Homo sapiens: one gene and its partner. The protein of the gene in region 1 interacts with the protein of each later gene in a pairwise test. Each region holds a gene or a part of one and is shown on either strand. Other genes may lie near its edges. The genes, in order: STK36 and FRMPD4.

What was found.
Region 2: the proteins of STK36 (region 1) and FRMPD4 interact in a two-hybrid assay, tested with the Homo sapiens proteins (one study listed by BioGRID and IntAct).

The regions. Positions count from the first base shown.
Region 1 is NC_000002.12:218,681,802-218,689,337, forward strand, and holds part of STK36 (serine/threonine-protein kinase 36), read left to right. Parts: intron 1-3,283; coding exon 3,284-3,427; intron 3,428-6,895; coding exon 6,896-7,075; intron 7,076-7,536.
Region 2 is NC_000023.11:12,722,473-12,725,023, forward strand, and holds the end of FRMPD4 (FERM and PDZ domain-containing protein 4), read left to right. Parts: 3' UTR 1-2,051; downstream 2,052-2,551. UniProt on the Homo sapiens protein: Positive regulator of dendritic spine morphogenesis and density. Required for the maintenance of excitatory synaptic transmission. Binds phosphatidylinositol 4,5-bisphosphate.

The DNA of each region.
Region 1 (7,536 bases):
GCCCTTGTGACCTAAACACTTCTGATTAGGCGCTGCCTCCTAACACTGGTGCAATGGGGATTAAGTTTCTAACACGTGAGTTTTGGAGAGGACAGAACATTCAAACCATAGCAACACTTTTTATTTATTTTTTTTATTTTTTTGAGATGGAGTTTTGCTCTTGTTGCCCAGGCTGGAGTGCAACGGCACGATCTTGGCTCACTGCAACCTCTGCCTCCTGGGTTCAAGCGATTCTCCTGCCTCAGCCTCCCAAGTAGCTGGAATTACAGGCATGTGCCATCATGCCCAGCTAATTTTGTATTTTGAGTAGAGATGGGGTTTCACCATGTTGGCTAGGCTGGTCTCAAACTCCTGACCTTAGGTGATCTGCCTGCCTCGGCCTCCCAAAGTGCTGGGATTACAAGCTGGAGCCACCACACCCAGCCTATAACAACACTTTTACCCCAAATTCATCAGTTGTAAAACTTTTGTCTCATTTGCTTTACCATCCTCTCTCTCTCTCTCCCCCTATGGACATAGCATCTTTCTGAATCATTTTAGGGTAAGTTGTACACATGCCCCTTTACCCCTAAATACTTTAGCGCATATTTCCTAAAACAAGATCCTTCACTTACACTAACACAGTACAATTATGAAAGTCAGAAATTTAACATTGATATAATACTGTTATAATAGATTAATTAAACTAATCTGTAATCCTTATTCAAATTTTGCTAATTGCTTCAGTAATGTGCGTTATGAAAATTTTTTTTCTGCTCCATGATCCAATCCAGTATCACACCTTGCTTTATTTATTTATTTATTTATTTATTGAGCAGGGTCTTACTCTGTTGCCAGGGTGGAGTGCAATGATGTGATCTCGGCTCACTGTAACCTCCGACTCCTGAGCTCAAGCAATCCTCCTGCCTCAGCCTTCTGAGTAGCTGGGACTACAGGCACCTGCCACCATGCCTGGCTAATTTTTGTGTTTTTTTAGAGAGAAGGTTTCGCCATCTTGTCCAGGTTGGTCTTGAACTCCTGGACTCAAGTGGTCTGCCCGCGTCAGCCTCACAAAGTGCTGGGATTACAGTGAGCCACTGTGCCCAGCCCACACATTGCATTTAGTTGTTATGCCTCCTTAGTCTCCTTTAATCTGGAACAGTTCTTGTCTTTCTTTGTATTTTATGACTGATAGTTTTGAGGTACACGTCAGTTATTTTGTAGAATGTTCCTCAAATTGATTATTTCCTAATGAATAGATTCAGGTTGTATATATTTTTGGTAGGAATACTACATAAGTGATACATCCTCAGTACCTTAATCTTTTTATTTATTTATTTGAGACAGTGTCTTATTCTATCACCTGGACAACAGGGTGGACTATAGTGGTGCAATCATGGCTCACTGCAGCCTTGAACTCATGGGGTAAGCAATTCTTTCATCTCAGCCTCCTGAGTAGCTGAGACTACAGGTGTATGGCACCATGCCCAGCTATTTTTTTTTTTTTTTTTTAAGATGGAGTCTTGCTCTGTTGCCTGGGCTGGAGTGCAGTGGCACGATCTTGGCTCACTGCAACCGCCGCCTCCCAGGTTCAAGCGATTATCCTGCCTCAGCCTTCTGAGTAGCTGGGGTTACAGGTGCCTGTCACCATGCCCAGCTAATTTTTGTATTTTTAGTAGAGACAGGGTTTCACCATGTTGTTCAGGCTGGTCTCGAACTCCTGACCTTGTGATCTGCCCGCCTCGGCCTCTTGAAGTGCTGGGATTACAGGCATGAGCCACTGCACCAGGCCTATTTTTATTTATTTATTTATTATTATTATACTTTAAGTTTTAGGGTACATGTGCACAATGTGCAGGTTAGTTACATATGTATACATGTGCCATGCTGGTGCGCAGCACCCACTAACTCGTCATCTAGCATTAGGTATATCTCCCAGTGCTATCCCTCCCCCTTCCCCCACCCCACAACAGTCCCCAGAGTGTGATGTTCCCCTTCCTGTGTCCATGTGTTCTCATTGTTCAATTCCCACCTATGAGTGAGAATATGTGGTGTTTGGTTTTTTGTTCTTGTGATAGTTTACTGAGAATGATGATTTCCAATTTCATCCACGTCCCTACAAAGGACATGAACTCATCATTTTTTATGGCTGCATAGTATTCCATGGTGTATATGTGCCACTTTTTTTTTTTTTTTTTTAAAGAGACAGAGCCTTACTATATTGCCCAGGCTGGTCTTGAGCTCCTGGCCTCAAGCAGTCCTCCTACCTCGACCTCCCAAAATGCTGGGATTACAGGTATGAGCTAATGTGCCCAGCCTCACGATCTTTTTTTTTTTTTTTTTTTTTTGAGACAGAGTTTCACTCTTGTTGCCCAGGCTGGAGTGCAATGGCACGATCTCAGCTCACCGCCACCTCCACCTCCTGGATTCAAGCGATTATCCTGCCTCTGCCTCCCGAGTAGCTGGGATTACAGGCATCTGCCACCACACCCGGCTAATTTTGTATTTTTAGTAGAGATGGGTGGGGTTTCTCCATGTTGGTCAGGCTGGTCTTGAACTCCCGACCTCAGGTGATCTGCCTGCCTCAGCCTCCCAAAGTGCTGGGATTATAGGCGTGAGCTACTGCGCCTGGCCTTTTTTTTTTTTTTTTTTTTTTTTGAGACAGAGTCTCACTCTGTCACCCAGGCTGGAGTGCAGTGGTGACATCTCGGCTCACTGCAAACTCTGTCTCCCGGGTTCAAACAATTCTCCTGTGTCAGCCTCCTGAGTAGCTGGGATTACAGGCATGTGCCACCACACCCAGCTAATTTTTGTATTTTCATAGAGAGGGGGGTTTCACCACATTGGCCAGGCTGGTCTTGAACTCCTGAGCTCAGGTGATCTGCCAGCCTCGGCCTCCCAAAGTGGTGGGATTACAGGTGTGAGCCACGCACCCGGCATTCACAATCTTTTTAATAACCTCATCGTATTTTCTAATATGGATGGACCCTGGTTTATTATTCCCTTAGTGACTGACTTTATGATCTTTTCCTTTTTAAAATTATTACAAACCATGCTGCAGCGGACGTCTTTCTAGGTATCTCTTTATGCACACATGCCGGTGTTCTCCAAGAGACTCTTCCAGACCCCTCACAGACTGCCAGCTGTACCTTTTTTAGCAGGTGACTGAAGATATACATCTGTGCTAAAGGGGTCACTGGCTCCTTGCAGTTACTTCATGATTCCCCATGGTTTCTACTGGTTGGGATCTACTACCTTAGACTTACACACTACTCCTGACCCCTTTCACTCCCCTCTGCCTCAGGAGCCAGACAGTGACAATGAGTGGCAGCACCTGCTAGAGACCACTGAGCCTGTGCCTATTCAACTGAAGGCTCCTCTCACCTTGCTGTGTAATCCTGACTTCTGCCAGCGCATCCAGAGTCAGCTGCATGAAGCTGGAGGGCAGGTAATGGGGAGAAAGACACTGTGGATGGGATCAAGACTGTTTTCACAGATGGAGCATTGAAATACACTGACTTCAGGAGAAAGAGAAAGTTTGTCCTTTTCCAGTTCTTCAGTCTATCTGCTTAGTTTGAGGAGGTTTACCAACCTCCTTTAGTAACACAGAAAGAGCAGCCCTCAGGTTTCTTTTTCTGAAGGGAAAAATGCCTACTAGAATAGGGATCAAACTTTTTTGATGATAAATATTTTAGGCATTGTGAGCCACCAGGCAAAAATGGAGGATATTATGTTAAGTACTTACATAATGAGGGAAAACACATTTTCACTAATTTTTTATTGATGAAATTAAAAATATAAATGTAACAATTAAATATACAATATTTTGTACTACAGGTACACTAGTGAGAAGAATGAGGTTATTTTGCGGGGGAGAGGAATGACATTTTGCTTAATTAGCATTCAAAGTTAGTGTAAAGTTAGTGTTCCCTCCTACAAAACCTTACTTTGCTCCTCTGAAACACAGTGCTTTTCCTTCCTGGGTACTCGCCAAACTGTGTTGCTTATATCACTTTATTCAGGTATAATTTATGTATAAGATTTACACTTTTTTGATGAATGATAAATGATTTTTAGTAAATTTGCTAATTTAAAAACTGTTAACCATAGTTCAGTTTTAGAACATTTTCATCACCCCAGTAAAATCCCTCATACCCATTTACGGTTTTTTTTTTGAGACGGAATCTCACTCTGTCACCCAGGCTGGAGTGTAGTGGTGTGATCTCGGCTCACTGCAACCTCTGCCCCGCGCAGGTTTAAGCAATTCTCTGCCTCAGCCTCTGGAGTGACTGGGATTACAGGCTCGTGCCACCACGCCCGGTTAATTTTTTTGTATTTTTAGTAGAGATGGTGTTTCACCATCTTAGCCAGGCTGGTCTTGAACTCCTGACCTTGTGATCCGCCCGCCTCAGCCTCCCAAAGTGCTGGGATTACAGGCGTGAACCACCGTGCCCAGCCTTTTTAAAATTTATTTATTTATTTATTTTTAATTTTTGAGATGGGGTCTCACTCTGTCATCTAGGCTGGAGTGTTGTAGCACAATCTTGGGTCACTGCAGCCTCTGCCTCCCTGGTTCAAGGGATTCTCATGTCTCAGCATCTCAAGTAGCTTGGATTACAGGCGTGCACCACCATGCTTAGCTAATTTTTTGTATTTTTTGTAGAGATAGGGTTTTACCATGTTGCCCAGGCTGGTCTGGAACTCCTGGGCTCAAGTGGGCTCAAGTAATCCTCCCACCTTGGCCTCCCAAAGTGCTAGGATTATAGGTATGAGCTACTGCCCCCAGCCCCCATTTACAGTTAATCATTATTCCCCTTTTTATAGCTGGTTAGTATTCCGTTATATGGATATATCACATTTTGTTTATCCACTCACTAGTTGATTAGATATTGATGTATTGGGTTGTTTCCACTTTTTAGCTTTTATGAATAATGCTGCTATGAACATTCACAAGCAAGTCTATGTATGGATAAATGTTTTTATTTCCCTTGGGTAACTACGTAGGAGTAGAATTGCTGGTCATATGGTAAATTTATATTTAACATTTTAAGAAACTGCTGAACTATTTTCCAAAGTGGCTGTACCATTTTACATTCCCACCAGTATTATATGAGGGTCCTTGTTTCTTCACATCCTTGTCAACACTTGTTATTGTCTAACTTTTTTACTATAGCCATTCTAGTAAGTGTGAGATAGTATCTCATTGTTATTTTAATTTACATTCCACTAATGATGAATGTTGAACATCTTTTCATGGCTTATTCACCATTTGTATATCTTCTTTGGTGAAATATCTCAAATCTTCTGCTCAGTTTTTAATTTGGTTGTTTGCGTTATTGAGTTGTAAGACTTCTTTGTATATTGTCAACATAAGACCTTTATCAGATGGGTGATTTGCAAATATTTTCTCCCAGTCTGTGGTTTGTCTTTTCATTCTTTCTCATAAGAGTGTCTTTTGAAGCAAAAAATGTTGAATTTTGATTTAAGTTCAGTTACTGTTTTTTCCCTTTGTGGTTCATACTTTTGATGTTGTGTATAAGAAATCTTTTCCAAATGCAAGGTCTTAAAGATTTTCTCTTTTCCTAAGTTTTATAGTTTTAGCTCTTACATGTAGGTTTCTGATCCATCTTGAGCTAATTTTTGTATATAATGTGAGGAAAGGATCTAAGTTGATCGTTTTTGCATGTGGATATATAATTGTCCTGGCACCATTTGTGGAAAAGAACTCTCCTTTCCTCATTGAATTGGCTTGGCACTTTGCACTTGTCTTTTGGCGCTAACACGTTTTCCTCCTAGTGTTGGATAACTTGCAGTGTGGGGAGGCAGACTGAAAGCTCTGCCTTTAGGGATAAGACTCCCTCTGGTGGAATTCCAGCTGCACTACTCATTAGCTGCGTGATCTTGGACTACTTACTTGACTTATGCAGAAGCTTCAGTTTCTTCATCTATAAAATGGCTAATTCTATTTATTTCACAGGGTTATTGTAAATATTAAATGAGCAGATGCCAACATTTAGAACAGCTAATGGAATATTATAAAATACTTGGTGTAAATGTTCTTCTTTTGAAGAATAACCATTTAAAAATACAATACTGGCCAGGCATGGTGGCTCACGCCTGTAATCCTAGCACTTTGGGAGGCTGAGGTGGGAGGATCACTTGAGGTCAGGAGTTTGAGGCCAGCCTGGCCAACATGGTGAAATCCCATCTCTACTAAAAATACAAAAATTAGCTAGGTGTGGTGGTGGGCACCTGTAATCCCAGCTACTTGGGAGGCTGAGGCAGGAGAATCACTTGAACCCAGGAGGCAGAGAGGTTGCAGTGAGCCAAGATTGCACCATTACACTCCAGCCTGGAGGACAAGAGTGAAACTCTGTCTCGAAAAATAAATAAAGGGCAAAAATAAATAAAAATATAATACTATCCTTAGCATGCAGGCTGTATACAAATAAATGTTAGGCTGGATTTGACCTGTGAGCCATAGTTTGTCAACCCTGATCTAGAGTTGAATAATGTTGTTTTGTCTTTCTGTGGTTAAATAATATTGTTTTATATGCATTGTTTTGAATTTTCAGAAGCATGTGCGGTGCACGTGTTTTTTGTTTTTAAGGTGAAGGGCTGGAGAAGGGAGGGAGCAGATGGGAATGGCACTTAGTCTGACAGAGATCCTGAGGAGAGGCCCCTATCCGTTGGTCACTGGTGTTCTGTGTTAGGTAACCTGACCATCTATTGTCTTCTTCCCTGGTACAGTTCCCCTATTTCCCTGCTTTCCTTCTCTGTGTTTTAGACTTGCAAAGAAAGGAATGCAAGCATGTGGTCTGCTTTCCCAGCTCCTTGGGGATGCTTGGTATGTGTAGTTCTCCTTCTTTTACCTCTGAAAATATCAATCGTTGCCTCTTTCCCTCATGTCACCCAGATCCTGAAAGGCATCTTGGAGGGTGCTTCCCACATCCTGCCTGCATTCCGGGTCCTGAGCAGTCTTCTCTCCAGCTGCAGTGATTCTGTTGCCTTGTATTCCTTCTGCCGGGAGGCAGGGCTTCCTGGGCTGCTGCTGAGTCTACTCAGGCACAGTCAGGAGAGCAACAGCCTCCAGCAGGTAAGCACCAGGCCAGAAGCCTCTGAAGACTTACAGAGGTTCTTTTTCTTGGATTTATCTCATTCAGATTGCCATCTCTCTTTGGTCTGACTGCCTTTTATTTTCTTTCCTCCTCTTTCTAGTTAGTAGACTATTAATTGCAAACTCTAATGCCTTCTGGGGCCAGGCAGATAAGGTCTGCCATGAAGTAGGCTATGCATGTGACTATATGAGTTGTGGGGAATATGATGAACTAGAGTTCACATGCCTCCTCTAAATAGAGTAGAGGCATCCTTTCCTCAGCCTCCAGCCCATTGTTGCCACAGGGAAATATGGGCCTGAGAAAACTAGCCAGATCTTCTAGTTTTCTAAGAAAAGGTAGAAACCCAAATTTTTATGTGTAATTTTTAAATATTTAGAGCGCTGTGCTTTGAAATGTTAGATCCTAGGCTTCATTGACCTGATCTTACAGAGCAGAGTAC
Region 2 (2,551 bases), on another chromosome or scaffold:
CTGGGGCTACAAATTGGTGGGGATGGATTCTACTGTGTCAGCACAAATGCTCTTCACAGTGGTTCTAGCATTTAAAAAACTTCCCGGGGAGAAGAACAGAGGGGATGATGGGCAGTTTCCTAGGTAACACCTAGAGTTATAGAATATCTCATTACATAAAATGTATGGAATTAATAATACCAAAATTAATTATTTGATGGAAAGATCTGCTTTGACTAAATGTCAAAAATCTGCAAACCAAAGACATTATCTTCCCCTCATCCCAACTCAACTACGAAACTTAAAATTCCCTTTAGAGTGATAGGACATTTAGTAAAGTATTTGCAAACTTAAAAAAAGGAACATTTAATGATCATCAAAATTAAGTACAGATTCAGTAATGTAGACCAGACCACACACCAGCACCTGTGAGTCTCATCTCAGATCACAGCTCTCAGCATAGGGCTTCATGCATCACCGCCTCTACAGAGGCTAAGGCTGCCAGTCAAATTTGGAATTATAGCGTAGTACTGGGACAAAATCTCAAATCTTGGATGTTCCAGAAAATCAGGGAGAGATGGCTACTGTAATCATGGGAGCCATGAGTAAATAGTTAAGTATTTATTAAATAAATACTTAATCTGGATTGGCTGATAAAAATATGAAATCTGAAAAAAAAAAGAAAGAAATGGAAGTGGTATATTTGACCAGTTCAAGTGAAACCAATGGAATGCAAAGAACTTTCCAGGACTGTCACATCTCTAAAAGTACCCTGCAGTCATAAAATAAAATCGATATGTATATATGTATTTCCTGGGTCATTCAGTGCTCAAGTTACATGCACTCCTACTTAGACAGGTGGCTCCTTAAGAACATGATGGGAGTACACCAGGTGCAAATATTTCTACTTTTGTAGCCTGCTGAGAAGGAGTCATAACACAGTCCACAATTGCAATCTCTCTCTAGTCAGCCATTCCACAGGGACTCAACAACAAAAGCCGCACGTGGTTATGGATGGCAGCAAAGGAAAGGAGTTTAGGTGTGTGTTATTATAAATAATGTTTAACTAAATAATAAAACATTATTTCATTACAATTATAATTATAAATATTGGTGTTTTGATATTGAGAGATATTAGTGGTGTTTACTGTGGAAAATCTTAGTAAATATCATTCTGTGTACTAAAATCCTAACCTATTAATAGGATGTGTGCCCTATGTCAGACAGTGTGCTAAGCATATTAACTATATTATCTCATTTAATCATCACAACAATCTGCTGGTTTGGACACTATTCTCTCTGGAGGCAATATGGATGAGTTCTTACGGATATGGGGTTTGGGGTCAGAAACATCTTGATTAAAATTTTGACTCTGCCATTTTCTAGCCCTTTTATGTTGGGAAAGCTACTTTTTCTAGTCTCAATTTCCTCATAATAAAATGAAAATCAATTATAAGATCGATTTCCATAGGGTTGTCATGAGTTTTGAGTAAAAATGTGTATGTAAAGTTCTTACCACAATACCTGGCAGAGAGTAAGTATTCAATTAATGTTAGCTATTATTATCATCATAATCGTTGTGTTAAATATATTGCCCAAGATAATATGTGGGGGAATGTTTGTTTTATATGCATATTGTATCCTGACTGTGTGCAGAACACATTATGTGTATTGCATATATGTAAAAGAAGTGTACAAGGAAGTGGCCATCCTTGTTCAAGTTACGTATCTAGTTAGAACAACTTCCCAGTCCATTGGAGTTCTTTGAGAAGCCTCAGGGAAGTAGCTCTGGGTCCTTCTAATCAACCTCCCATTACTGCGCCAGTAAGTTTCTGTTTCTTATAAATAAACTCTTTGCTATTCAGAAAACCTCAAGGGGCCCCCACATTCACTAAGCATGGGGCTCCTAACTGGGGTCCAGGTCCATAGAGTGTAGGAAGAACATATTAGAACAATACTTGTGCTTATTTTTATCTAGCTTTTTTATGTTTGTGTATGTTTTATAATGGCATAATAGTACAATGGTACATGTACATAATTTTAAATAAATAAATGAATGAATGAATAAATAAGCATATGCCTGGTGCATGCATGTGACAATATTGTCGCAGGTAGGGTTGCATTCACTGAAATCTGGAGAGCACTGAACTGGAGAATAAACCTTCCTTATACTCACGGTTCTTTATGTTTAGTCCCCAGTCTACTTTGCCAAGTTTATCTCCTACCATTTTTATTAATCTTTTATCACAAATCTTTCAAACAAAAGTAGACACAATCGTATGAATTCATGTGGACTCATTACCTACCGATTCATGTCTAATCTTATTTTCTGTATTTCTACCCACCTCCTCTCCCACTGTATGATTTACAAGCAAGTCCCAGACATCATAGTGCTTAGCCCATGAATATTTCAGTAAGAATATCCTGTGAGAACTTTTAAACATAACCACAATGACGTTTTTGCATTTTAAAAATTGGGAATTCCTTAATATTATCAAATAAACATTACAGAAATAAATGATGGAGAAAGTAATAATCCCCTTAAACCCAACTTCCAAAGATAACCATTGTC